Homo sapiens: one gene and its partners. The protein of the gene in region 6 purifies or fractionates together with the protein of the main gene of each other region. This does not show direct contact. Each region holds a gene or a part of one and is shown on either strand. Other genes may lie near its edges. The genes, in order: LAPTM4A, SLC41A1, RNF166, GATM, AP2A2, SLC35A5 and VPS45.

What was found.
Region 1: the proteins of SLC35A5 (region 6) and LAPTM4A purify together in Homo sapiens (affinity purification with mass spectrometry; one large-scale study listed by BioGRID and IntAct). This does not show direct contact.
Region 2: the proteins of SLC35A5 (region 6) and SLC41A1 purify together in Homo sapiens (affinity purification with mass spectrometry; 2 studies listed by BioGRID and IntAct, with this or other methods). This does not show direct contact.
Region 3: the proteins of SLC35A5 (region 6) and RNF166 purify together in Homo sapiens (affinity purification with mass spectrometry; one large-scale study listed by BioGRID and IntAct). This does not show direct contact.
Region 4: the proteins of SLC35A5 (region 6) and GATM purify together in Homo sapiens (affinity purification with mass spectrometry; one large-scale study listed by BioGRID and IntAct). This does not show direct contact.
Region 5: the proteins of SLC35A5 (region 6) and AP2A2 purify together in Homo sapiens (affinity purification with mass spectrometry; one large-scale study listed by BioGRID and IntAct). This does not show direct contact.
Region 7: the proteins of SLC35A5 (region 6) and VPS45 purify together in Homo sapiens (affinity purification with mass spectrometry; one large-scale study listed by BioGRID and IntAct). This does not show direct contact.

The regions. Positions count from the first base shown.
Region 1 is NC_000002.12:20,048,829-20,052,846, reverse strand, and holds the start of LAPTM4A (lysosomal-associated transmembrane protein 4A), read left to right. Parts: upstream 1-1,218; 5' UTR 1,219-1,326; coding exon 1,327-1,437; intron 1,438-4,018. UniProt on the Homo sapiens protein: May function in the transport of nucleosides and/or nucleoside derivatives between the cytosol and the lumen of an intracellular membrane-bound compartment.
Region 2 is NC_000001.11:205,789,199-205,792,698, reverse strand, and holds part of SLC41A1 (solute carrier family 41 member 1), read left to right. Parts: intron 1-980; coding exon 981-1,166; 3' UTR 1,167-3,500. UniProt on the Homo sapiens protein: Na(+)/Mg(2+) ion exchanger that acts as a predominant Mg(2+) efflux system at the plasma membrane.
Region 3 is NC_000016.10:88,696,409-88,699,908, reverse strand, and holds the end of RNF166 (E3 ubiquitin-protein ligase RNF166), read left to right. Parts: exon of another isoform or gene 1-175; intron 176-176; coding exon 177-289; intron 290-823; coding exon 824-938; intron 939-1,299; coding exon 1,300-1,407; intron 1,408-1,793; coding exon of another isoform or gene 1,794-1,975; intron 1,976-2,275; coding exon 2,276-2,341; 3' UTR 2,342-3,408; downstream 3,409-3,500. UniProt on the Homo sapiens protein: E3 ubiquitin-protein ligase that promotes the ubiquitination of different substrates. In turn, participates in different biological processes including interferon production or autophagy.
Region 4 is NC_000015.10:45,372,045-45,375,544, forward strand, and holds part of GATM (glycine amidinotransferase, mitochondrial isoform 1 precursor), read right to left. Parts: intron 1-3,500. UniProt on the Homo sapiens protein: Transamidinase that catalyzes the transfer of the amidino group of L-arginine onto the amino moiety of acceptor metabolites such as glycine, beta-alanine, gamma-aminobutyric acid (GABA) and taurine yielding the corresponding guanidine derivatives.
Region 5 is NC_000011.10:1,009,305-1,012,740, reverse strand, and holds the end of AP2A2 (AP-2 complex subunit alpha-2), read right to left. Parts: intron 3,414-3,436; coding exon 3,344-3,413; intron 3,059-3,343; coding exon 2,924-3,058; intron 2,194-2,923; coding exon 2,116-2,193; 3' UTR 501-2,115; downstream 1-500. UniProt on the Homo sapiens protein: Component of the adaptor protein complex 2 (AP-2). Adaptor protein complexes function in protein transport via transport vesicles in different membrane traffic pathways.
Region 6 is NC_000003.12:112,560,722-112,564,844, forward strand, and holds the start of SLC35A5 (UDP-sugar transporter protein SLC35A5), read left to right. Parts: upstream 1-1,323; 5' UTR 1,324-1,552; intron 1,553-2,663; 5' UTR 2,664-2,682; coding exon 2,683-2,812; intron 2,813-4,123. Other genes in the region: ubiquitin-like-conjugating enzyme ATG3, read right to left, coding at 736-807. UniProt on the Homo sapiens protein: Probable UDP-sugar:UMP transmembrane antiporter involved in UDP-alpha-D-glucuronate/UDP-GlcA, UDP-GlcNAc/UDP-N-acetyl-alpha-D-glucosamine and UDP-N-acetyl-alpha-D-galactosamine/UDP-GalNAc transport from the cytosol to the lumen of the Golgi.
Region 7 is NC_000001.11:150,081,276-150,084,775, forward strand, and holds part of VPS45 (vacuolar protein sorting-associated protein 45), read left to right. Parts: intron 1-66; coding exon 67-201; intron 202-608; coding exon 609-722; intron 723-1,440; coding exon 1,441-1,608; exon of another isoform or gene 1,609-1,676; intron 1,677-3,500. UniProt on the Homo sapiens protein: May play a role in vesicle-mediated protein trafficking from the Golgi stack through the trans-Golgi network.

The DNA of each region.
Region 1 (4,018 bases), on a different chromosome or scaffold from region 6:
GCCAAAGAAATAACCTTTACTCTGAATTCAGTGTGGTCTCTGGCTAAGAATATGCCCTGGCAGAAGGGAAGCCCTTTCTATTCTCTGAAAAGAAGTGTGTTTACCAAAGCATTAAATGATAAATACATTTTTTAACGGTGAAGTCACAGGTCTCACAGAAATACAAAATGAACACGTGTAAAAAATTTATTTACTCATTAACCCGGGGACCAGTAAGCTGTTAGAACCAGCTCTAAGCAGAATTTAAAGCACCCATCTATATTGTTGAATCAGGACTGGGGAATGAATTTACAAATCGATGCAAAATGGCTTTTCCCAAGGAAGGGTAAGATAACAATACGAGGGGTCTTACCGAGTTGTGCAGAGCACCACAAAGAAAAGCGGACAGCCCCTCTAGCAACAGAATGCCCGGGACGGTGTGCCAAACTATGGCTGTTTTTTCATTGAAGACATTCAGTAATTTTTTGTCCATTTCAATGTGTTTCATAATTTCTCCCTACAAAAAAAAATCACTCATCTCCAAAAACCCAGCAGCTAAGTAGTTCTTCTACATTATCTTGCTTTCATTTATCCTTAATCCTTTTGCCTTTGGCAGGGTTGGATGGTCTTTCTTCGCCCCCACCAAGGAGGCTTCGGAGGGAAAAGAGGGTGTAAATCCAATCCCTCCACTCCTCCAGGCACCCTCCCATTTCCGCCACAGGGGCGAGGATGGCTCAAGGCTGGGCTTGGCTCTGTCCCTTCCCCGCAGGCCCCGCCCCCAGCCCGCGCAATAATTGAGCTGCGCGCAAAGGTCACGTTATCAGCCTGTGACGCTTCCCATCCAGTACGTGGCACACATTGCTCAGAAAAGCCCCTTGTGCCCGCTTTCTGCCATCCGCGCTGTCTCGTGTCTCCCTTTTTCCATTAAATGCCTCTTTTCTTGCGGGTCTCATCTCGGGAATAGTGCACTACGGGGACATACCTATCCCCAACTATCCTAGGCCCGAGAACCAGCCCTTGCCTTCGCGTAACAGGCGGAGACTCGCTGAGGCGAGTTGCACTTCTAATTGGGCGTGAGGTCTTGTCAATCCCCAAGTTCTTCCAATCAGAAGTCCGGTCCATCCAGCCTTCCGCTCCCCATTGGCCTGTGTGGAGGAAGAGGGGTGGGTAAGCCGAAGTCGCTGCGCTCAGTGCGCAGGCGCGAAGAAGCTGGCAGGGGCACGAGCCGGGGGCGGGTTTGAAGACGCGTCGTTGGGTTTTGGAGGCCGTGAAACAGCCGTTTGAGTTTGGCTGCGGGTGGAGAACGTTTGTCAGGGGCCCGGCCAAGAAGGAGGCCCGCCTGTTACGATGGTGTCCATGAGTTTCAAGCGGAACCGCAGTGACCGGTTCTACAGCACCCGGTGCTGCGGCTGTTGCCATGTCCGCACCGGGACGATCATCCTGGGGACCTGGTACATGGTAAGGCGGGCAGGCGTGGCGCGTATGTCCGGGGGGCCTGGGGAGCGGGGCCTGGTGCGGAGGGGGTGAGACTGGAAACGGGGTGTTGGGTGGGGCGGGGACTTGGAGGGGCGCTGCTTTTTAAGGCGCGCCAACTCTGGATGAAGTCCAAGGACTTTGGGAAAGTAACCTTGTTCAGGAATCGGAGTCGGGGGAGCGGGGGGCGGTGGTAAGCATGGGGAGATTGTTCTTTGGCAAGAATTTGAGGAGAGAAGCGGGCTTGGGAGAGCAGAGGCTTTGCAGGCGAAGGGACGAGGGTGGTAGGATTTGGTGGGAATTCCTCTGTTTTGGTTCTTGTTGTATTTCTACGATCTGAAAGGCAGCATCTCCCTTCCTCCTATCCAGTGCTCCCTGGAATTTTTTCCTCTAATGAAATAATTAGGAGCGGACCTTGGTAAACGCAGTCTAGTTTCGACATTGGTCTTCCCGTTGGGAAAGCGAAAGATCCAGCGGTAACCCGGTTGTCCGCGTTTCTTGGACTTTGTTTTGTTTCATGCCTCTCTTGCATCTCCAGAATCGCTTGGGGGCGATAGCTTTTGCCTGAGTTGACGCCTGACCAGCTTTTGTCCTGGTGCAGCCTCCTCCCTGCGCAGTAGGTGCTTTTCGTAGCCGACCGGCTGTTTTTACAGAGACCTTTATTGAGAGCCCTCTCCATCCTGGCCACCTACCCCGGTATCTCCTGGGTTCCAAGATCTGTGTGATTCTGTCCTAACCAAGTTGACACTGTTGTTGCCTGGTGATTCACTAGTAATAAGTTTGTGATTTTTTCTTTTGTAATTCACCATTTATAGTATCCATGCACATTAAACCTAACTTGTCTATGACTTCCAAATATGGGATTCAGTTTAGGTAGTTTTAGGTTATTATGATTTTGCCGAAGCCGTGACAAACTTCCTACATGGTCGACTTGGCCACTTTAATGACTTCGCGAATGTGGTTGTGTGGGTGACGTTGGTGATACTGTGCAGTTTTTGATACTTAACTGCAAAAGAGGAAGAGAGTTATCCCAGACACAATCTGTTTTCTCTGTACTTGCTGCTTCTCCCCACTCATTGACTTGAAATCATTAGTAAGCATTTGGACAAACGCCAGATGAGAATCATCTTAAATGAGGCAGATACTGTTTCATGGCCCACCCCCGGGGGACTACCTGACTCCACATGACTGCTACCTGCCCTGTTGTTTTTTACCGTCTTGTTTCTGATGTACATTTAAAAAACAACACGAATGTGTAGGTTTGCTTGTGCTGAGTTTATTTTCATGTTTCCTGTACTTTTATATTCGGAAATACCGCCTTATTGACAGAACTATATCACATTTTCCCTCAGAGACTCTTTCGTTCTGTATTTTAACTGATTTGGAATACTAAACATAGAGTTAATGACCATCAGCTGCATTATGTTTCTAACTTCCTTTTATAGCTTCTCCATTTTGCTGAGGGGCTGGGTCTCATTTCTTTTGTTTGTCCTTAGCTCTGTCTTCTATTTCCCTAAATGAATAATTCAAACCTTGAGGATCCTCAAGGCTATTACTCAATTCCGTCTTCCTCACCCCCAGAAGATGACTTTCTTTCCTATTTAACTAAGAGAATCCATCGACCTGGCTCTCTCCTGCAGTCTTAGTCTTCCTGTTTCTTCTCAGATCCTTCCCTCCACTCACAGAACAAAGGATTCCTAACTCCTCAAGAAGAGAATACCACCATTTCTATTTCAACCATCCGAATGTAATTGGCTGTATTTCTTTTCAGTTTTTCTCAGGCAGATTTTTTGATGCTGTGGGCTCAGCTAGAAAATGAATAGAATAGCAGGATAAAGTGGGAACTACAAACAGGAAACTCAAAATGCAGAGAGAAAAACTTCATTACGGGCGCTTATTCTTACAAAATAGGGAGTGAGGAGTTTACATCTGTTCCCTACTTTAAGCCCTTGTTGTGAGAAGGGTTCACATACCTCTGAAGACCATGCTTTAGTTTCACAATTTTAAAAAGATGCCATAGCTGTTCTTACTTTGCATAGACTTCTCAGATTAGTGTAAAACATTTTATTGTAAACTTCTTAAATCGTTTGACCTGTCTTAAATTGATTAAGAGATTTACTGACCACCTGCAGTGTAAAAGGCTTTGGTGGACAAACAAAAGGAATAAATCACAGGGGCCATGTGTCATTTGCCTTGTTTTCCTATTACCTGCTAAGTGCTAGACTCTCAAATGTTTCTTGTCTAACACAGCATCTGCCCTTAAGATATTTATGGTATCACAAACTTGGAGCACAGATATGAAAAACATATGGTACAGTGATGAGGAGGAGGAGAAGGTGATCAGTAATATCAGATTCTAATCAGAATAAGTACTGGAAAAAGGCCATTGGTTTTGTTTATTATAGTTTTGTTGATGACTTTCAAAAGAGTAGCTTGAATACCATAGCAGTGTAAAGACAGTCTCTACCAACTTGGGGAGACATGTAACACTTATGATGCAAGACCACCTAAGCCAAACTGTAGTATAATACTTCGAAGCAAAGAAGGCTTGTCCAAGTAGTGCATT
Region 2 (3,500 bases), on a different chromosome or scaffold from region 6:
CACTGTGCAGATTCTAGGAGATTCAGGCCTGCCCCACCGTGGTATTCTAGATCAAGGGCATCGCCAACTTAAAAGCGCATGTAAATCTTGTTAAATGCGGACTCTGACTCAAGAGGTCCAGAGATTTTGCATTTCTAACAAGCACCCAGCTGTTGTTGATGCTGCTGGTCCTGGGCCCACTAGCGAGATTCTGATCTGAGTCATTCTTAATTATCTGTATTAATAGAAGGTAAGCAAGAACACAGATAAAATCAAAGCCACAGATCATGTCAAATGTATTTTGAATTGGTATGCATTGTCTGCTTTATATTAATATTGAGGTGACTTATTCACAATTCAACTTTATTAGGACTAATGTTAAAATAAACTTGCATTCTTTGAGCCCAAACAATGGAAAAGAATGGAATGAAAAGCCACAACAACAGAATGAAAAGGGTCAGGAGGAAGCCAGCTTGGGATGATCATCTGTTACTTAAGACAACCGCCAGCAGCAGCTTCAAACACTATCCTTATACCACTCTGCCGAGAGAAGACATCCCTTTAGGAAAAGCTGACTCCAGCAGCCAGCCCCCTGCCATGCTCCTGGAAAGGCCAACATGGCAGGAATTGGAGTGACCCCAGAATGAGGTGACCCAGAGTTAGAGGCAAGAGGGCTGAGTTTCTGCAACAAGTAGGATTTAGGTCAGGAAGCTCCTTGTTTGGTAAACTTGGGAGCAGAATATAATGCTGATGTGGGTGACCCTGGGTCGTAGCAGCATCTTCCTTTCTAAAGAGCTCTTATTGTGCCTGTTGTCTGCTCAAAGTGGTAATTGTGGGGTGGAGAAACACAGAGAGGTTGCTGGGGTGGAAAGAGGAAGATTAAAAAGTAAGGATTATGGCCAGCCAAGCCCTGTGATGCACTGAATGGGTCTGATCATGTGGCCTCTGGCTCCCCCTGGAGAGAGAGGATGGCTATAGGCTGGGCCCTTTTGTCTCCCCAGGTGCTGATTCTCCTGTACATCGCAGACTGGATGGTGCACTGGATGTGGGGCCGGGGCCTGGACCCGGACAACTTCTCCATCCCATACTTGACTGCTCTGGGGGACCTGCTTGGCACTGGGCTCCTAGCACTCAGCTTCCATGTTCTCTGGCTCATAGGGGACCGAGACACGGATGTCGGGGACTAGCTTGGTCACTCAACATTTTCCCCATCCCTCTGCACTTTCTATTTGAAATTTTTCTTTTGTTCCCCTGTCCCTCCTCCACCCCACACTCCCACCTCTTTCTAGGACTTCACTTTGATACCAAATTCTCATTATTTTCAATGGGAATTTTTATACATTGAGCCAAGTTTGTATAGCAAGAATTTGGGAAACACAGATGGCCTGAGATAAGCAGTACAAGTAGGTTTTTGAGACAATCACCAAGTGCAGTTTCATGGTGGGTGCCTCCAGGTGATGTGGACTGGAGCAGGGGAGTTTTGTCTGGAATCTGGGGACATGGGGTTTGGCTTTAGCAACCTGTCTTGGCCCTAATGAGAAACCCTTTGTAAGTGGGCTCTGGATTTTTGGTTTTGTTTTCTTTTTATCTGTTTTGTTTTATTTTTGGTTTTGGTTGAACAGAGGGACAGAAGAATAAGTAACACTCCCAAACACAGACATACTTTTGTAGAAGTGGACCAACTTCAAAGCTCTGGACAGGAGACACCTGCTCCAGGCCCCTGTGATCCCAGTTCTGTTCTCTTGCCCTCTGGACCTAAGCGTTCCCACTCGCAGAAAGAGTAAGGTGGACTGACTTTTCAATTTGTGCACATGCCTCTTGTTCAATGGCCTGGTCAACATCAACAACCCCTCCCTCTGATCATTTCCAGTTGATTGTCATATCCAGGAAAAAATGGAACAGTGCACTCTTCTCCCTGTTGACCCATGTCCACCTATTGGTTCCCCAAAATCCACATTCTCCCTGGGCCCAAATGACTTTGTCTCCCTGGGCCCAGATTCTTTGTCTCTCTTCAACCTTCATCTCAAATTGTCTCTAAGCACTACCTTCCCCAGAGCTTGCCAGGTTGGGTTTTGAGATTAGGGTCAGGTCATGGGTATGTGGAGAATGGTTTGGAGGTTGAGGACAACCACAGGTGTCTCATTGCTGCCATTTCTCCTGAGGACATAATCACTTGGTCACCTTGGACCCTGTCACTTCCTAAAATTACTCGTTCTGTCATGCCATAGAGGTCAGTTTTCCTCTTTCTTGGCTTCTACCCACAAACATTCACCAATCATTTATTCGTTCATTTAGCAAATATGCAGCCTCCGCAAGATGAGCTCTCCTGCAGACAAGCATGGTCTGAAACATTCTTTGAGCAATATTTATTGAGTGCCTACTATGTGTTAGGTACTGTGCCAGGCACTGATAAGCCAGTGGTAAGGGAAACACAGCTCTAACCTCACCTCATTCTCCAGGTTACAAAGGCCATGTGCCCCTTTGAATCTGGCAGAGAAAGTTTCCTCGTTGTAAGTATTTGCATCTACTTCAAGCCAGATTCTTCTGCCTCTTTCTCCTTTCCAGACCCCTACTCTGTGCAGTGCTGACCACAGCTAGAGCCACCGCCCCATTGCTCAACCAGTATTTATTTCCCTAAACGACCCTTCCTCACATTCCCTTCCCTCCACCTCTCCTTACCAAGCACCCAAAAGAGGATTTAGAACTAGCAGGGTGGACATCATCTGGTTGTTTCTACTTTTCTCTGCCTAGCACAAAATTGGGAGAAAACTGGAGCCTCCATCCGCAGTCACACGTGTACAGATCTGGGGATTTGGATGTAGGCTTTTTCTAACTTCTCTCTCAGAAGCTTCTACAGAAACCCTTCCATCTGTAGCCTCAAGGGCCCACCTCCAAGGGAAGGCTTAGGCAATGATCCTGTTTCTACCAACACTGCACCTTATCCCAGGAACCTGCCCTAGACCTCCAGAGACCATATTTTCTCTCCCTCCATTTCTACCCAGACCTCCAGGCCTCCTTCTGGAATCATAGAACCGTAGAATTGGAAGGAATTTTAGAGGTTTTCTAGTTGGAGTTGTGTCCAACAGAATTCATTAACACCAGCCTGGGCTTGTTTTTCCTCCTCCCTCTGGACTTTTTTCATCTTTTCCTCCACCTCAAAAAATACTTACACACAGATTCTTCTTGTACAGGCATCAAAACCAACTCCTCTGCCCCTAAGGCTGTGTCCCTGTGGTCTCCAGCCACCCCTACCCCAGTCACTCGCCCCTTCCTCATCTCTGGAATTTGGCCAGGCAGTCCCAGAAGACTCTGGAGTGACCTCCTTTGCCTAAAAAGCAGACAGATAGGCATGCCCCAGGCCCTGAGTGAGCAGAGGAGGACTGTAGGGTGAGAGGGAAAGAAAATGAAGGTGACTTTCATGGAAGTTTCATTTCTTTTCCCCGATTGTACCAACTGCATGTACTTTTGGCCTGGCTGCAAGGAGCAATATTGGTTTACTCTCGTATCCTTAAAAAGTTACA
Region 3 (3,500 bases), on a different chromosome or scaffold from region 6:
TGGCTGCTCAGTGCCTGAGATTGTTTTAGCAGCAGAAGGGACCGGGTCCCCCTGCTGCTGGCAACACAGACGCTTGCTTACAGTTCTCTGGTCCTGGACACCTGAGGTCTCGGCCTCCCCAGGACGGCCCTTCCAGATTCTCAGGACCGCCTTGCCCTCCCTGCCCTGTCTCCTAGGTGACCCTGGCAAAGATGAGAGTGCACATTTCGTCCTGCCTGAAGGTCCAGGAGCAGATGGCCAACTGCCCCAAGTTCGTCCCCGTGGTGCCCACATCACAGCCTATCCCCAGGTAGGCACGCTGCCGGGCAAGGGAGAGGAACTGTCCTCGGCGGTTTCCTCGTTCTGGGAGCAAGCGCAGTGCCCCATCCCAGAGAGGCTGGGGGAGTCACCCGGGGCCGGGTCCACTCTGGGGAAGTGGACCTTCCTTGCCACCCTGCAGGAAGGCTCCTGTGCTGCCCTCCCTGGCATACCCACCAGGCCCCCTGGGGTAGGGACAGCTCAGCTGTGGGGAGCAGGAGGAGGGCGCAGGCCGGGCCCACACATCGCCTCCCAGCAGGTGGATGGGCCGAGAGACGGCTCCTGCCAGGGCAGCGCCAGCAGAGTCTCTGCCGTTTGGCTGGCCTAGTTGTGTGGGGTGGACGAGGGTCCTGGGTGTGTCCTCAGGAGGCCATGGCGTGCAGAGGCACGGGGGGCACCCAGCCACTGCCACGCTCTTGCAGCCTACAGAGGGCAGGCCTGGGGCCACGCCTGTGTTTGAGAGAAGCGGGGAGGCAGAGCCCCTAGACACCTAGCCGTGCCACTCACTCTACCCCCGCCCCGCCAGCAACATCCCCAACAGGTCCACCTTCGCCTGCCCGTACTGTGGTGCCCGCAACCTGGACCAGCAGGAGCTGGTGAAGCACTGTGTGGAAAGCCACCGCAGCGACCCCAACCGCGTGGTGAGCAGTGCCTGCCCCAAGCGACGCCTGCGCCAGGGGAGGCCTGTGGGGGACAGTACAAGGCCCAGGAGCCTGCTCGCGGCGAGTCCGGGGGTGCCCAGGCCACAAAGGCCTCCTGGGACCCAGGGTGGGAACTTGGCTGCCCGAGCAGCACCTGGCGGAAACCGGGGAGTGTCCATGAGTCCTTCAGGGTGACGCGCACTGAATAACTCGCTTGTCACCGGGACACGCGCCTCCAGGTCTGGGGTGCCTTCCCAGGCTGAGGCAGCACTGACGGGGCTCAGTGGAGGGCCCCCAGTCCTACTGCGGCTACCCCGCCTCTCCGCGGTCCGGCTCGGCTTGACCCCAGTGCCTGTTCCAGGTGTGCCCCATCTGCTCGGCAATGCCCTGGGGGGACCCCAGCTACAAGAGCGCCAACTTCCTGCAGCACCTGCTTCACCGACACAAGTTCTCCTACGACACCTTTGTGGTAGGCATCCCGCCAGCACCGTCCTCCCCCACGCCCTCCTCATCCACCCTCCTCCTGCTCGGGCCCCTCGCCAGCCTCAGGGTCCGCAGGGTTCAGAGGAAGCCAGAAACAGAAGCCTCGTTTCAGGTGGCCACATTCCCCCAGGTTCTGTGGGGGCTGCCTGCAGGTGGGGAGTGATGGCAGCTGAGTTTGAGTGGCCACTAGAGGGTGCCCAGGCCTCTCGGGGACATGGACCGCACAGGGCAGGTCCCTGCCTGCCCACCCCACAGAACCCCTCGAGGGTGAGCCAGGCTTCCTTCTGGAAGCTTTCTAGAGAGCGCGGGAAGGACTTTCATCAACATCGAACACTCCAGCCCTGTCTCCTTTTCCCACCCGCCGCGGGTCAGGCACACACCTGGCCCCCGGGCCTGCAGACCCTCGCACAAACTCCTCACTCCTGGTGCGGCCCCTCCCTGCGCCGCCCTGTTCATTCCTGGCCCTGGCTAACAGTCCTGGCGATGGCTGTCACTCCCTCTGCCAGTCGTCCGGGACCCACGCTCCGCCTGCCTCAGGATGGAAATTGTTAGAGGTCAGGGAGCCCTGGCCGGCCTGCTCACCTCGGAAACCCCGGGCTTAGAGTCCGACCTGAACCAGCAGCCATCCATTCCGAGTGCCCCCGTACCCAGCGGGTGATGGACACACCTTCACCTTCTCACCCCCCAGAGGACCGTGCAGGCCCCGAGCCTGTGGGGACAGTGGAGCTGGGTCCTTCCTGTGTCCTGCTGGAGGGAGGCAGGAAGGGTGGACACGCCTGTGTGGGTGATGGGCAGAGGGGACCTCTCCTTCCTGTCTCCCTCGAGCCCGGTGCATCTCTCCTTCCTGTCTCCAGGACTACAGTATTGACGAGGAGGCCGCCTTCCAGGCTGCTCTGGCCCTGTCTCTCTCTGAGAACTGAAGGGAAGCGCAGCCACCCGCCTGCGTCTGGGGTCAGGGATGTCCCCGCTCCTGTGTCGCACCTGGCACCTGCTCGGGAGCGCACCTCACCGGACTGAGCTCACAGGAGGAGCCTGCACCCGCGCAGAAGGGGAGCCGGGGCCGAGCCTCCGGGCCTGAATACGGGCCAGCCGCCGAGGCCGCCAGAGCAGGGCCGCCTGGTCCCACCGGCGTCGCTGGGTTCTTCGGTGCTTCTGGCCGAGCAGGCGGCCTACTTGGGCAGGGCTGGACGCTGGGACCTGGAGCTGCCGCCGTCTCTTCAAAGCCATGATACCCCCTCGTGGGAAGAAGGGACCGACGCGCGAGTCGCGCTCCGCAGTCGAGCCGGGAGGAACCCAGGCTGCTGCCCTGCCCAGCCCGACCCTGCCCCGGCCCCACTTCCACCTTGCGCATTTGGTACTGGCTTTTGTGATACTTAGGAACCCTGGCATCTTTTCTATATTATCCAGTGTGATAATCTTTTCACGTTTTATAGAGCAAAGACAGAGCAGTTACTCTTCATATTGCAATATCTGTGTTTGACTAGGAATAATAGTATTTTTATGGAACATTTACAAAATTATATTTTTTAAGAAAACAATCAAAACAAGCATTGGGGGATTGGGGCAAGGATGGAAGGAGCAGTGGGGCAGCTGCCAGAGCTCAGGCGAGCCATGGGGTCTGCTGTGGGGTCTGCCCTGGCCACCCACTGTGTGTCTGGGTCCTTGAGGTTTGTACGTTTCTCTTTGATGACCAGGAAGAAATCCCAGCACCCCAGCCACAGGCTGTGGCTGCTCCCAGCAGAGGCGGGGCCGGCAGAGAAGGGGCCTCCTCCACCCAGAGTCCTGGCCTTGGCCCGCTGTCACCTTCAAAGCTGACTGTGCCCCGCTGCGGGAGGGGACGGCACCCCAGTGGTGGCAGAGCTTGGGGGCCTGGGCAGGGGCCCGCTTGGCGGGCCGGGCAACACGTCAACATTCTTTTCTGTTCTTGGCATTAATTATTGCTGTCTTTTTTTTAAAAAAAAAAGTTTAAATAAAATGTCTCAGAGCATCTCTAGCAGCCTCGACTGGCTTTTGTGCTCCACGGTGTGGAATCGCCAGCTGCTGTCTGTGTTGGAGGTCGGCTGTGTCCTCCCCAGGCAG
Region 4 (3,500 bases), on a different chromosome or scaffold from region 6:
TTTAGAAAAACTGAATGATGCCAGTGAAAGTCTTAAACAGAGGCTGGTAAAAAAAGGTCCATAGGCAAATTTGGCCTGCTGCTTGTTTTTGTAAATAAAGTTTTACAGGAACGCAGGCACATTCATTTGTTTACGTATTGTCTATGGCTGCTTTTGCACTACAATGGCACAGCTGAGAGTTGAGTAGTTGCAACAGAGACCGATGGTCTGCAAAGCCTAAATTACTTATTATCTGGTAGAAAGATGAAGTTTGCTGACGCCTGGGGTCTGAATCATTAATTAGCTCTTTTACTAAGGTCTATAGGCAAACAGCAGGCTGAATTTCTGGACTAATGAAAAATGTTATCATCATTAAACATTTTTAAAGACCAAGCTACCCTTTCAAAAAACAAAATAAAAGCACTCCACTGTTTTCTACTCCTAGGAATTTCTGCAACAGCAACCAGAAAGAGGATAATAATGACTCTTTATATTCCTCTCAGATACATGCTGGTACTACTCATCCATTCACCACTTCCTCCTTCTCATGCCAGGCACATCTCCTACAATCCACTAGGGACAAGAAGCCTTTGAAAATTTAACACTGGGTTACAGCAGATGCAGAGTTATGCTGTCTTGCCAGACTCATTCCAAAGTATCCTCCGTGACTATTTGTGCAGGGTGAAGCTTGCCTTGATAAATTAAACCTTCCTGGGAGAAAAAGGTTATTTGAACAAATGTGATTTTTTCTTGTAGAGTTTATAATCTGGCAAAGGTTGGGCAAAGTACAAATGATCAGGGCACAATACGTTTTACAAGAGATAGCTAGAAATTGTTTACACTTCCTTTATAACCCTGCTAAATGAGCCAGCAATCATTCACCAAGTTGTTTGCAAGATGATGAACACTATATTAGACGCTTAGCATATGATGCTTTTAATAATCTGTTGCAAAGGTATGTCTGCATTCCTTGAACCTTTATATTCTTTCAAAGCCTAAAACCCTTTACAAAGGTTTGCCAAGTGAATTTTTAAATACTGTCTTTGGAAGGCTAAGAAATGACAACAGAAATGTATTTATCCAGCTGTAAGCTTATATTACACTAATCTTGATTAATCTTGTATTTTATAAAAGGTCCTTTATCAAGGGCTTTATTTTTAAAAGACAAAAGCAAAACAAAAAACATATTTGAGGCTGGGCACGGTGGCTCACCCCTGCAATCCCAGCACTTTGGGAGGCCAAGGCGTGTGGATCACGAGGTCAGGAGATCGAGACCATCCTGGCTAACACGGTGAAACCCCGTCTCTACTAAAAATACAAAAAAAACAAATTAGCCAGGCCTGGTGGGGGACACCTGTAGTCCCAGCTACTTGGGAGGCTGAGGTGGGAGAATGGCATGAACCCAGGAGGCGGAGCTTGCAGCGAGCCGAGCTCACGCCACTGCACTCCAGCCTGGGCGAGACAGCGAGATTCCATCTTAAAAAAATATATATCTATATATATATATATTTGATAGCAGATATTTACTATATTTTGCAGAACAAAAAGTCACAGAGCTTTAAAAAATTATGCTTCCCAACAATTATGTTCCACATTCCTTTCCTTAAAATTTCTCTAGTACTTATATCTTCCAACATCTTCTGCTCTGATTGCCTATGGACAGTTTACTACATTATTTTTTCTTTTATTGTTCCCAAACTGATTAATATATGTGTCATTCTTCTCTACTACGAGGCATGGCCTTGCTTGCTAGGATCCATGCATGTCTTAGATTTACTTTCTTCTCCCTCAAAACCAGGCTTAGCACATGGCATGAAACAGAAATAACCATTATTTCCTGTCTAGAATCAAAGAGAGAAAGAGAAAGAAGAATAAACAAACAAAAAGAACCAGACGAATGAAATCAATACTGCTAATGTTACTGATATCTACAACTATTACACCGACAAAGTACCTTTGGAATGTAATTGGCAAACTGGATCCATACAACTATAATAAGTTGTTGTGTTGTCCTTTAAAATACTTAACATGTAACCTTTTATCTTTAGATTAATCCTTAATCCTGTTAGGTAGATAGCAAACTAGCAAACCTCTTAATATCTTCATTTTACTGTGGCCCAGAAATTTGTGGAATCTTGTACAAGGTCAAATAGCTAAGTAACCGAGACTAGCTATCAAGTTTTTATCAAATACCTAATTAATCCCAGACTCCTGACTTCAGCATGGTACTTTTTCCACAAGTCCATGAAATGACAAAGTCTAAAGTCATAAATCAAGTGACAAAGAACTCAAAATTACCTCTGAGAATTCTGATTCTGTAAAATCGCATGATATGAAAGTCTATCATTTTAAAGACAAGTAGAAGGATAAATTATTGCTTGGATTTAAATTTTAATTTCACCCAATTAAAATGGTTAGGGGATGGGACTTTTCAAGAAAAGACTTAAAAAGACTACTATGCCTTTTAAAAACATGTGGATGGTGTATAAATTAATCTTCTCATCAAATTCCAAATATCAGAACCAAAGATAGTTTCAGAACAATTAGAAGTTATTACTTTTTCTATTTCCCTGTCTTCCAAGTCTAACTCAGGAGTCATTTTCTTCAAGAGGACTTCTTAACTGGCCAGCCCTTGGTCATTCCTCTTTCCTGGCACTTCAACTGCCTTGTCAGTCGACTGGAATAAGATACTTGGTCTTCGTTTCTATGTGAACATCAAATCTCTTCAAATAGAAAGGAAGATCTTTTATATTAATACCTCTAGAGCCCTGGTACATGGTAGGCAATATTTCTGAAGACCACGACAATGCTGTTACAGAACTTCTTTCCTCAATCCACTTTACAAATAAAAGTGTAAATATTCAGGAAAAATTTAAGGACACTAAAGATACATTTGTAACCCATTATTAATAGGAGTCTAGGCTGTGTCTACAATGTGGAAAGTGGTCCCTTAGATATGGAATCCTTATGCAGTATAGAACCTGAACACCAGCCCATAGAGGCCCTGGATATAAGAACGTTACAGATAAAAACCACTAGGAGTTTTTGTTTGTTTGTTTGTTTTTGAGATGGAGTCTCACTCTGTTGCTCAGGCTGGAGTGTAATGGCGCCATCTCAGCTCACGGCAACCTCTGCCTCCTGGGTTCATGCCATTCTCCTGCCTCAGCCTCCCAAGTAGCTGGGACTACAGGCACCCGCCACCACGCCTGGCTAATTTTTGTATTTTTAGTGGAGACGGGGTTTCACCGTGTTAGCCAGGATGGTCTCGATCTCCTGACCTCGTGATCCACCCGCCTCAGCCTCCCAAAGTGTTGGGATTACAGGTGTGAGCCACCGCGCCTGGCCACCACTAGGAGTTTTTAAAAAGAGAGATATTACTTGTTGCCAGGGAAATCCTGGAAGACTTTGTGAAAGGTGTCATTGAAGCTAGGTGGTGGTAGGTTTAAACTACAGACTAAAGGGCACAGGAAGATGGATGGAAGAGACTTAGGTAGGGGCAAAGATGCAGGGCTTGTGAAGAA
Region 5 (3,436 bases), on a different chromosome or scaffold from region 6:
CCTGGGATCTGCAGTTGGGCAGGGCTGCCCCCAGCAGGGTCTGGGCTGGTAAGAGAAGCTGCCTCTGGCTTTGGGCCCCTGCCCTCCCTCCATTAGGACTGTTCCGTCTCTGGCGAAGCCCACCGTCCTCCGGGGGCCACCCCCATCTGCCCGAGAGCCCCTTCTGCACCATCTGTGGTAGGATCAACTGGAGGATCCCCACGGGGCCTCCCGTTCCCCAGGAAGGAGCCCTGGGCTGCACCTCAACACACTGTACAGTGGGGAGCCCTGCGGCCAGGCTGGAGGGGTTCCCGCATGACCTGAGTCCCAAAAAGCTCCACCACACACCCAGAATCAAACCGGCGGAGCAAAGGGCAGGTCACTTTCTGATGCCCGCTGCCCGTGAGCCCACTGCTGAAGGACAGGTCGGGGACCTTGGGGTCTGTGCCTCACGCGACCCCCGGGGAGCTATGAGGGTTACATGGGATGCTTTCCCCCCAAAGAAAGCGCGTGATCCGGGGTGCAGTTCTAGCCTTTATTTTTCTTTGACGAGGAGTGCCACACTGAGGGCCCCTCTGCAGCGCCGCACAGGGAAGCGGTGCCTCGGGGAGCAGCCTTTCCTCTGATGGCGGGAGGGGTCAAGGGATGCAGGAGATCCACGGCAGCACACGCAGCCTGCAGGCGCAGCACACAGGCAGAGCACTGCCCAGCAGCTGGAACATGAGAATGAGGGCCACACCACCCAGCTGCAGCACAAGCCCAGCACGGCGTGTCACGGCACCTGGCACCACCAGACCCAGAATGGCCTGTGCGAGAGGCGCACGCCACTGACGTGGCTATGCTGTGATCAAAGCCCGACACGCCGGAAGAAGAGCCGCAGACATTGTGGGGTGCACACACTGCAGGGGAGCTGTGGAGACCCTGATGGGTCCATGAGCCCCTGCAGCTGCCCCAGGGACCCGCACAGCAGGCAACTGAGGGCCAGGGTGAAAACCCTCAAGCACATGTGGCCACCCACCCTCCCTGCCTCCACAGCATGTCAGGAAGCCAGAACCTGTGCTGGGTGTGTTTAGGACAAACAAGGCCACCATCCTGGGGACAGAGCGCAAGGCCCCAGCCTTGGCTCCTAGGCCGGCCCCACTCTCTCGCCTCTCAGGTGTCAGACGTGCAGCCTGGGTGCTGAGTCCAGATGACAGGTGAGACACAAGCCGCAGGTGGCACATGGCATGCGGCCAATGGCCCCTTCACTTCCTGACCACACAGAGGCGTCCCTCCTCCACAGCCCCTCCAGGGACGACTGGACGGGGCCGGTGGAAGGACTCAGGCCTGCACCGTGGCCTGGGGACGCCCACTCTGACAGGAAAGAGACGAGCACACCTCTGAGTCTTGCGCCACCGGCCCACACTTTACCCTGGAGTCCTGGGGGCCCTGCGGGGCCGGCAGGACGCTCCTCCCCTGGCTGCACATCCAAGGCCTCGGCGACTGCAGGAGCATAACAGACGCCCTTCACAAACAGGAGCTGGGAAAGGAGAACAGTTACATCCGGCCAGGACACGTGCTTTTGCCAGAAGTCATTACAAATACAAATGTTTCTAAATTCTAGATTAAAATCCTGCCTGGGAAAACAGTCCAGCTGGGACTGCAGCAAAACCAGGGTCAGCTGTGCTCCTCCCAAGGGCCCAGGACGACGCCAGGTGTGCAGCCACCAGGACGGCCACACACCAAGGCTCAGCCCACGCCATGCACAGTGGCACTGCTGCTCCCAGAGGCTCCGAGGCGGGGTGGGCGGCAGCACGGGCCATCTCAGTGACACTCCCACAAACGCCACGTTCACGCCAACTTCTAATTTCCCTTTAATTTGTAGATTTAACCACAGAACTGTCTCGATTTTTATAAAAATTGATCCCAAGATCCACCTTCTGCCGTGGCTGCCACAGTCCAGGCTGAGCTTTTCCTCCTGAGCCACACACGTGTGTTCCCGTCCAGCCCAAAGGGGAGAGGTGTGGGGCGGCGGGGCGGGGAGGCGCCTTGTGCTGTGGCACTGGACACGGTGCTCATCTGCAGGATGGCCACGAAGACAAACGGCACAGACGAAGACAACACAAGACACACGAGCCTGGTCTTCCATCCTCAGGACTAAAACTGCGCTGAGAGCAATTCACATAATCTCTGAGAAACGGCTTCCTTACTTGTGCGCAGCGTGAGCCGGTACATCTGAAACAGAGAGCACAGCAGGTCAACGGGCACGCCGAGGCTCACACAGCCCTCGGGTCCAGGATCCGCCATGCAGAACCCTGTGGGCCATGCCCAGGGACCACTCTCTGGAGGCACCCACAACTCGGCAGAGGCCTGAGCACCACACACACTGTCAGCATGAAAACTGAGGGCTGGCATGGGAGCGCCTGGCGTCTCGTACGTAGCTGGCGGGAGTGCAAAGTGGCACGGCCACCTGGAGAAGCTGTGGGATGTTCTTGCAGCACTAACCACACACAGGCCCTGGGCGACAGCAGCACTCCTGGGTGCCACCCAAGTGAAACGGAGACAGGTGTCCGTCGCCAGAACGGGACGTGGTGAGAAGGAACAACGCGGTGACAGAGAGGAACAGCTGGGAGAGCCACCGCCCAGGGCCAGGCTGCTCCATGGTGGGACGATGCTCCACGGTGGCCAGCTGTGGGGAGGCTGGGATGCAACCATGTATTGACAGGGTGGTGGTTAAACAGGCACACAACATCTGTCACAACTGACTGAACTGCACTAGGGATGATGCTCCACGGTGGCCAGCTGCGGGGAGGCTGGGAGGCAACCATGTATTGACAGGGTGGTGGTTAAACAACATCTGTCAAAACTGACTGAACTGCACTAAAGAGCTACACATCTCACCACGTACATTGTGCCAGAATAAAAAGCAACTCAAGTGTGTTCCACCATTTCCTGAGGGCCTGACCTGGGCTTGCAGGTTCGGCTCCAAGCGCAGCAGGCATCCAATCTGGGTGGTTTTCGTGTGGATGATTCCAGCTCCCACGAAATTCGCAGGATTAGGATCAACTTCTTCAAGAAGTGCAGAACCAAATCCAATGATCTGTCCAAAGAAACAGGAGAATGAGGACCCTGGCGCGGGGTCGCGGGCAGCGTGTCCCCCGGGGCCGCCCCTCCAGACCCTGGCGCTGGGTCGTGGGCTGCGTGTCCCCCGGGGCCGCCCCTCCAGACCCTGGCGCTGGGTCGCGGGCTGCGTGTCCCCCGGGGCCGTCCCTCCAGACCCTGGCGCGGGGTCATGGGCTGCGTGTTCCCCGGGGCCGTCCCTCCAGACCCTGGCGCGGGGTCACGGGCTGCGTGTCCCCCGGGGCCGTCCCTCCAGACGTGTTACCTTGGCTTTGGTGACTTCTGTGTCCATTGGGTGCTTTGCTTTGAAGATGTTCTGCACTTCCTGCTGTGGACTGTGAGAAACAGCAAAGGCGAG
Region 6 (4,123 bases):
CCTTTAAAAAAAAAATCAGTCACTACTGTAACAGCTAATGTGTCACAATTTTTTACTTTAAAAATGCTGTACTGTTGCCAATATATTTTTAAAAATTATACAGCCAGGAAGGTCAAACCGTGCCTTGTTATCACTAATAACCAGCTACGGCTATCTGAAAAGCTTGGGAAAAAGGTTTTGCTCGTTAGATGGGTTCAAGGTTACTGAATGAGATAATGTTGCCAATTTCACCTCCTTCCTCTGAAATCTAAACGAGTTGGGATCGCAGTCACAACTTCCCCACTACAGCGGACTTTCATGAAACTTAAAGGAAAAGTGACCTCACCTCAGGTCTCTTTTGACCTCTGTGTGTCAAACACTAAATTCATTTTTTAAAGAGAAGCAAAATCCTTGCTTAAAAAGGCTAAAAGACTTCCAGTGTTTGGATTTAACGTTCTTCAATCTACTCAGCCTCCGAACACCCTTCCAACCCGACGTACCCGACCGCGCAGAGTTATGACGGGAGAAGGCAGGAACACGCAGAGCGTCGCTCCAAGTTTACCCCTGAGGAGTCAGAAAGCCCTAACGAACAGCCGGTTAAGACTACGGGTGGGGGCTGCACACTTCCCTGTGTCTCGAGCCCTACTGCCTTCCTACACCTTGCCCCGCCGGAGAAAGCGGGGACTCCTGCGGCGCCTGGTCCCTGAAAAGTCGAGCATGTGCCTGACAGCTCCCGGCAACCCTGGCCTGGCTTACCTTGAGGACCGGGGTCAGGTACTCAGCCACTTCCAGTGCCTTTCCCTTCACAGTATTAATCACATTCTGCATCCTGGGGCCGGAGTAGCGGCCGGCCCCGCGACGGGATGGAAAGTGCAGCCGTGTCAGGGGCCAGGGAGTCAGAAAATGTCCTCGCTGCCACCGACTCGCATCAGCACCCGGCTGGCAGCACCCGAGGGGACGGGACGCGACGCGACGGGACGGGCGGGACGAGGGGGCGGGGCGGCAGGCACAGCGCGCGAAGACGGGGTGCGCGATCCTCGCACCCCAGGCAGCCCGCGACGGACCGGACCCAGCTGTCACCCAGCCGCGAGGGAGGGCAGCGGGGCCGAAGGGAGACCTGAGGTGAGAAGCGGACGCACACGCACCCCTCGCCCTCTGCGAGCTGTCTGTCCTCGCTTTGCTTCACTCGCGCCCCTTCCGGCTTCCCTTCCTTCTCACTCTCTTGCCGTAGCTGCGCCGCCACCGGGGCCTCACGTGACACTAGACTCTCCCGGCACGTGACGTGAGAAAGGGGCCGGGCTGGGGCGGGATAAGCCGCTTCTCCCCTCCTTCCGGAAGCGTAACACTGAACGTGCCTGCGCAATGGGTGTCGGGTCCGCTTTTTCCCAATCCGGACGTAATCGTGGTTTTTGTTCTGCAATAGGCGGCTTAGAGGGAGGGGCTTTTTCGCCTATACCTACTGTAGCTTCTCCACGTATGGACCCTAAAGGCTACTGCTGCTACTACGGGGCTAGACAGTTACTGTCTCAGCTCTAGGATGTGCGTTCTTCCACTAGAAGCTCTTCTGAGGGAGGTAACCGCGCCCCGCGGGCAAGGAATTGCGCCTGCGTCTGAGGGGAGGGTGCGCCAGTGAAGAGCCCTACTGCGCATGTGTGACTAGAAGGGTAGTCCCTGACTGTGAAGGGAAATCTGGCCCCCTCCTGTCGGGGAGGCGTCCTGTAGGCGTGCGCCCAATGGGGCTGTCAGTATTGGCATTTCTCCCCACTCCCCGCAGGCTCTATGCGCTATTCCTACAGTACGCTGGGAGGCTTTGGGCAAGTTACTTACCCAACCTGGGGTTTAGTGTCCTCAGCCTATCAAAAGAGGGCCTTAGATTCATTGATTTCTACGATCTCCTCCATTTCAAACACTAACTAGTTCAGTAAAACTTTACAGCAGTGTTTCAGATATTTCCATTTTGGTCGTTATTGTAATGAAGTCTGTCCTAATAAGCTTTTTCCTCCGAGGGAAAAGAGGAGGAAAATACAATTCTGAAAGCCTTATCTTACAGCAAAATTATTTACTAATAAGAGTAAAAGCGAGGCCGGGCGCGGTGGCTCACGCCTGTAATCCCAGCACTTTGGGAGGCAGAGGCGGGCGGATCACAGTCAGGAGTTCGAGACCAGCCTGGCCAACATAGTGAAACCCCGTCTCTACTAAAAATACAAAAATTAGCCGGGCGTGGTGGCGGGCGCTTGTAGTCCCAGCTATTCTGGAGGCTGACGCAGGAGAATCGCTTGAGTCCGGTAGGTAGGGGTTGCAGTGAGCCAAGACCGCGCCGTTGCACTCCAGCCTGGGTGACAGAGCGAGACTCCGTCTCAAAATACATAAATAAATAAAATTTAAAAATAAAATTCAAAATTGCTTTGAAGAATTCTTTTCTGCTGTTGCAAAGTGTCATTTGCTCACCTGCTACCTTTGTCAGCAGGTCTAATCTGGTTCTACGTTTTCTGTCTCCAGAGTACTCCCTCTTATCAGATTTTCACTTTCCTTTTGTCATAGTTTCTTTATGCCTCAACTTTCTTGGTGCTGATATAGTCATAGCCAAAATTTTTTAAAAATTCCTTTTTTGTCCTCACGATCAATGGTATTTGCGTTTAGGGTCTGCCAACAAGGTCGTTCATGAAAGTGTTTTTCTCTTTAAGGTAATTAAAAAACAGTGGAATGGAAAAACAGTGCTGTAGTCATCCTGTAATATGCTCCTTGTCAACAATGTATACATTCCTGCTAGGTGCCATATTCATTGCTTTAAGCTCAAGTCGCATCTTACTAGTGAAGTATTCTGCCAATGAAGGTAAGTTAAGACTTGGTATATGCATGGAGCACTTCCATCTAATCACACATCTCTCTCTTGCCTTTGGTTCTGTTATATATAACATGGAAATAATAATGCCTTTTGCTTCATGTGAGTGATAAAGCATATTTAAATTTGATTATTTAACCTTGCATTCCTCAACAAGAAAAAATGTTTGATAATGGATGAAATGTGAGTCAATCAGATACAAAAATCAAACCCTTTGGTGAAGAACCAGTCGTAACATTTGACTGTTAATTCAATCAACAGGTGTTTCTGGACCTATAGCAAAATGTGTAATTGCGCCTTATTTTGAAGTAGAAGGATATATTTGTTTGGTCACTTGGCATTTGTGAGGTACTTACTATTGTAATTATTGTATCAATGGTAAGGTGTCAGCATTATATTGTGCGGTCATATTGTATCAACAGTATAAATTATAAGCTTTGATAAGTATGTATTTAAGAAATCTTTTTTTATGTAGGGATTTAAGCAAACACTTTAATTCCACAAAACTGTATTGAGTACTTCTTACTAGTTATTGAGTGAAGGGGTGGGTTGCCCCTCCACATCTGTGGGTGTTTCTCGTTAGGTGGAACGAGAGACTTGGAAAAGAAAGGGACATAGACAAAGTATAGAGAAAGAAAAAAGGGGGCCCAGGGGACCGGCGCTCAGCACACGGAGGATCTCTGCCAGCCTCTGAGTTCCATTAGTATTTATTGATCATTATTGGGTGTTTCTCGGAGAGTGGGATGTGGCAGGATCATAGGATAGTAGTGGAGAGAGGGTCAACAGGTAAACACGTGAACAAAGGTCTCTGCATCATAAACAAGGTAAAGAATTAAGTGCTTTGCTTTAGATATGTATACACATAAACATTTCAATGCCTTAAAGAGCAGTATTGTTGCCCGCATGTCCCACCTCCAGCCCTAAGGCGGTTTTCCCCTATCTCAGTAGATGGAATATACAATCGGGTTTTACTCCGAGACATTCCATTGCCCAGGGACGAGCAGGAGACAGATGCCTTCCTCTTGTCTCAACTGCAAAGAGGCGTTCCTTCCTCTTTTACTAATCCTCCTCAGCACAGACCCTTTACAGGTGTCGGGCTGGGGGACGGTCAGGTCTTTCCCTTCCCACGAGGCCATATTTCAGACTATCACATGGGGAGAAACCTTGGACAATACCTGGCTTTCCTAGGCAGAGGTCGCTGCGGCTTTCCACAGTGTTTTGTGTCCCTGCGTACTTGAGATTAGGGAGTGGTGATGACTCTTAACGAGCATGCTGCCTTCAAGCATTTGTTTAACAAAGCAC
Region 7 (3,500 bases), on a different chromosome or scaffold from region 6:
TTTCCTGAACGTTTACTATTTCCATATTCTGTCAGTTACCTTTTTTTTTCATAATTCTTTATTTAGTGGACATATCAGGCCATGGTCCACGAACTACTAGGCATAAACAACAATCGGATTGATCTTTCCAGAGTGCCGGGAATCAGTAAAGACTTAAGAGAAGTGGTCCTATCTGCTGAAAATGATGAATTCTATGCTAATGTAGGTGGTTTAAATTTTTTTAAATTGTCTTTAGTTGTTTTTATGTAAGAAGATCAATATTGGCTTGTTAGTATAGGGGCAGGCATGGGATTTCATGTGAAAGGATGATAGGGGCATCCTGTGCATAAACTGCCTCTGAAGGGAAGGCAGAAGACTTGGATTCTGACCCTTTAGCAATTTTTTTTCATAGAGATCACGTAGTTATTTACTTCTCTCCCCTCCAGTAGCTGTTTGTGAGAATAGTAATGGTATTCATCAACAGTGTCCCAGCTAATGTCCAAATTTGGTAATTAAAATAGAATTTCCCTGCCCTTCAATTCTGTGTTCCAAATTCTTTTTCACTTCTTTCAAGTTGTCTGAAAGTCAGACTAGTTGATGAAGTGTGCTTCCAACTTTCTTTTTCACAGAATATGTACCTGAACTTTGCTGAGATTGGTAGCAATATAAAGAATCTCATGGAAGATTTTCAGAAGAAGAAACCAAAAGAACAGCAAAAACTAGAATCAATAGCAGACATGAAGGTAAATTGAACATGTACATGAATGACAAACATGTGACAGTTTGGTACTATTCATGTAAGCAACACTTTTGGAATCTTCTGGGTCTAATTTCTACCTTGATTGATTTTATTTGGTTTGAGACTTATTTTCTGTAATGTCTTTAAACAATATAGTGAAAACTTTATGATAAGCCATGTGCTTCTTTCCATTCTTCAGTAATATCTGGACTATTTAAAGACTCAATCTATTGCTGGGAGCAGTGGCTCACGCCTGTAATCCCAGCACTTTGGGAGGCCGAGGCGGGTGGATCACCTGAGGTCGGGAGTTCAAGACCAGCCTGACCAACATGGTGAAACCCCGTCTCTACTAAAAATACAAAATTAGCCAGGTGTGGTGGCGCATGCCTGTAATCCCAGCTACTCGGGAGGCTGAGGCGGGGGAATCGCTTGAACCTGGGAGGCGGAGGTTGGGAGGTTGCAGTGAGCCAAGATCACGCCACTACACTCCAGCCTGGGCAACAAGAGCAAAACTCTGTCTCAAAAAAAAAAAAAAACTCAGTCTACCAACATATACCAGTTCTTCTCTTCTTAAGCATAACAAAATGCCATGTGGCTGAAAGTTGTAGATGCTTTAATCTGGGCTGAAAAACAACCCCCGCTTTCCCCAACCCCCATTCAGTACATGCTTATCCTCAGTCAAAAAATAACAGAACCTCCCATTGATGTTTTTCCCATGGCAGGCGTTTGTTGAGAATTATCCACAGTTCAAGAAAATGTCTGGGACTGTTTCAAAGCATGTGACAGTGGTTGGAGAACTGTCTCGATTGGTCAGTGAACGGAATCTGCTGGAGGTTTCAGAGGTTGAGCAAGAACTGGCCTGTCAAAATGACCATTCTAGTGCTCTCCAGGTCAGTCCAATTTGATGAGCACCTACTATGTGTAAGGCACTGTGCCAGGCAGAGCAAGAGATAAAAAGGCAAGTAATCCTTCTTCATCAACATGGAATTTAGTCCAACAAGGAGCTGACATGAGAACACAAATTAATATTATTTAAGATAGATCTATAAAAAGAGTCACAAGAGAAGTGTAATGTGCAATTCCCAAGGGTTCAGTTAATTAGTATAAGGGCAGCCTAGTCTACTAGAAAGAGCACCAAACTAGAATCAGAAGATCTAGATTGGAGTGTTTGGTATACCACTTACAGGCTTTGTGACATGGAGCTGTTGACTTAATCTCTGAGCCAGTTTCATTATTTGTAAAATAGGTATATTAATACTCATCTCACAGAGTGGTTAGGAAGACTTTAAAAGATAAAACATATATTAAAATGTATTGTCTAAGTTTTTTCATTATTGAAGATCTGCTTTTCATCGCACCAACATATTAATGCCTGCTATATGTATATACTACTGCTGTGAGGATCTGAATACAAAGATGAATAAGATACCACATTACAGTAGGGGAGAAAGAAATTTAAACCAGCAATTGTAATACCAAGCACTATGTACTATATTAGAGGTATTTACAAAGGAATATGGAAATACAGAGGAAGGACAACTGTTTTCCCCAAGGATGAAGCTTCTTAGCACTTCTTAGGGAAAATAACATCAAACAGGGAAAAGGAAGAAACATTCTCAGCAGAGAGAATGCAGGCATGAAGATGTGAAGAAATAAATATTGATATATATATATATTTTCTATATATATATAAAATATTTATATTTGAAATATACATATATTTAAATATATATATGGGAACAGAGAATAGTTCAGTGTGGCTAGTCCAGGGTACAAGATGAGTGGTCTTAGACTGGAAAGACTGACTGAAGCCAGGTTATGGCCATTGGAAGGAAGTTGGGCTTTAATCTTAAAATGATGGGGGCTCCCGGAGGATTTTAGAAGAATAGCAACATAATCAGACTCTGGCCTCAAGAAATGTATAGTCTAGTTGAAGAGACAAAACTAAAGCACAAGAAAAAATTAGATAATGTTTCAAGATGAGAATTAAGTCATAATTGTAATACTGACTGTAACAGGTTTTGAGGTTATTAGGAACAGTTCTTAGAGAAGGCAAGATTTGGATGGACCACAAAAGAATGAATAGAATTTGGGGAAGGAGTTCAGCCAGGAGCAGCAAAAGCAAAGATGTAGAAATATGCAGGAAGTAATAAACAGTTTGACCTGTAGAGAGTGAGTATGAAACAGAATTAGATAAAATTGAATTGGTAAACAAAAAACAGTTTACAAGCTTTATGAAGAGGCTTGTAAGAATTTATACCTGCTGAGATAAGCAAAGAGATCCAGTATAGGATCTTATGTAGAAAGTTGAGGTGAGGAAGGCAGTATTTTAGGAAATGTAACCTAGTAAGGATGCTTTAGAGGTGAAAAAACAGGTCAGAGAGACTTGTAGACTTACAGTGATAGTAGTAAAAATGTACAGCAAGGGGCTGAACTGAAAAACATTTCAAAGGGAGAAGAATTAGACGACAGGCTGGATATAAAGATAGAATAAATCAGAGGTAATCCCATGTTTCCTGAGAAATGACAAAGTATGATGTCACTGACAAGTAATTTAGGACTACGAGTCCTTTAGGAAATAGCCATTTCTAAGCCACTTATAAGAAGCACATTTCCCTGTTAATAGGGCCCTATATTCTAAAGCTTAGCTTCTTTCTTTCCCAGCTACAGTTCCACTTTATTCTATAAAATAATGCCAACCTGTTATATTGGAAACAACTCAGGTTTTGGACCCAGACTGGCTTGGCTTATATCCTACCTCTCCTTACCAAAGTTTCTTTGG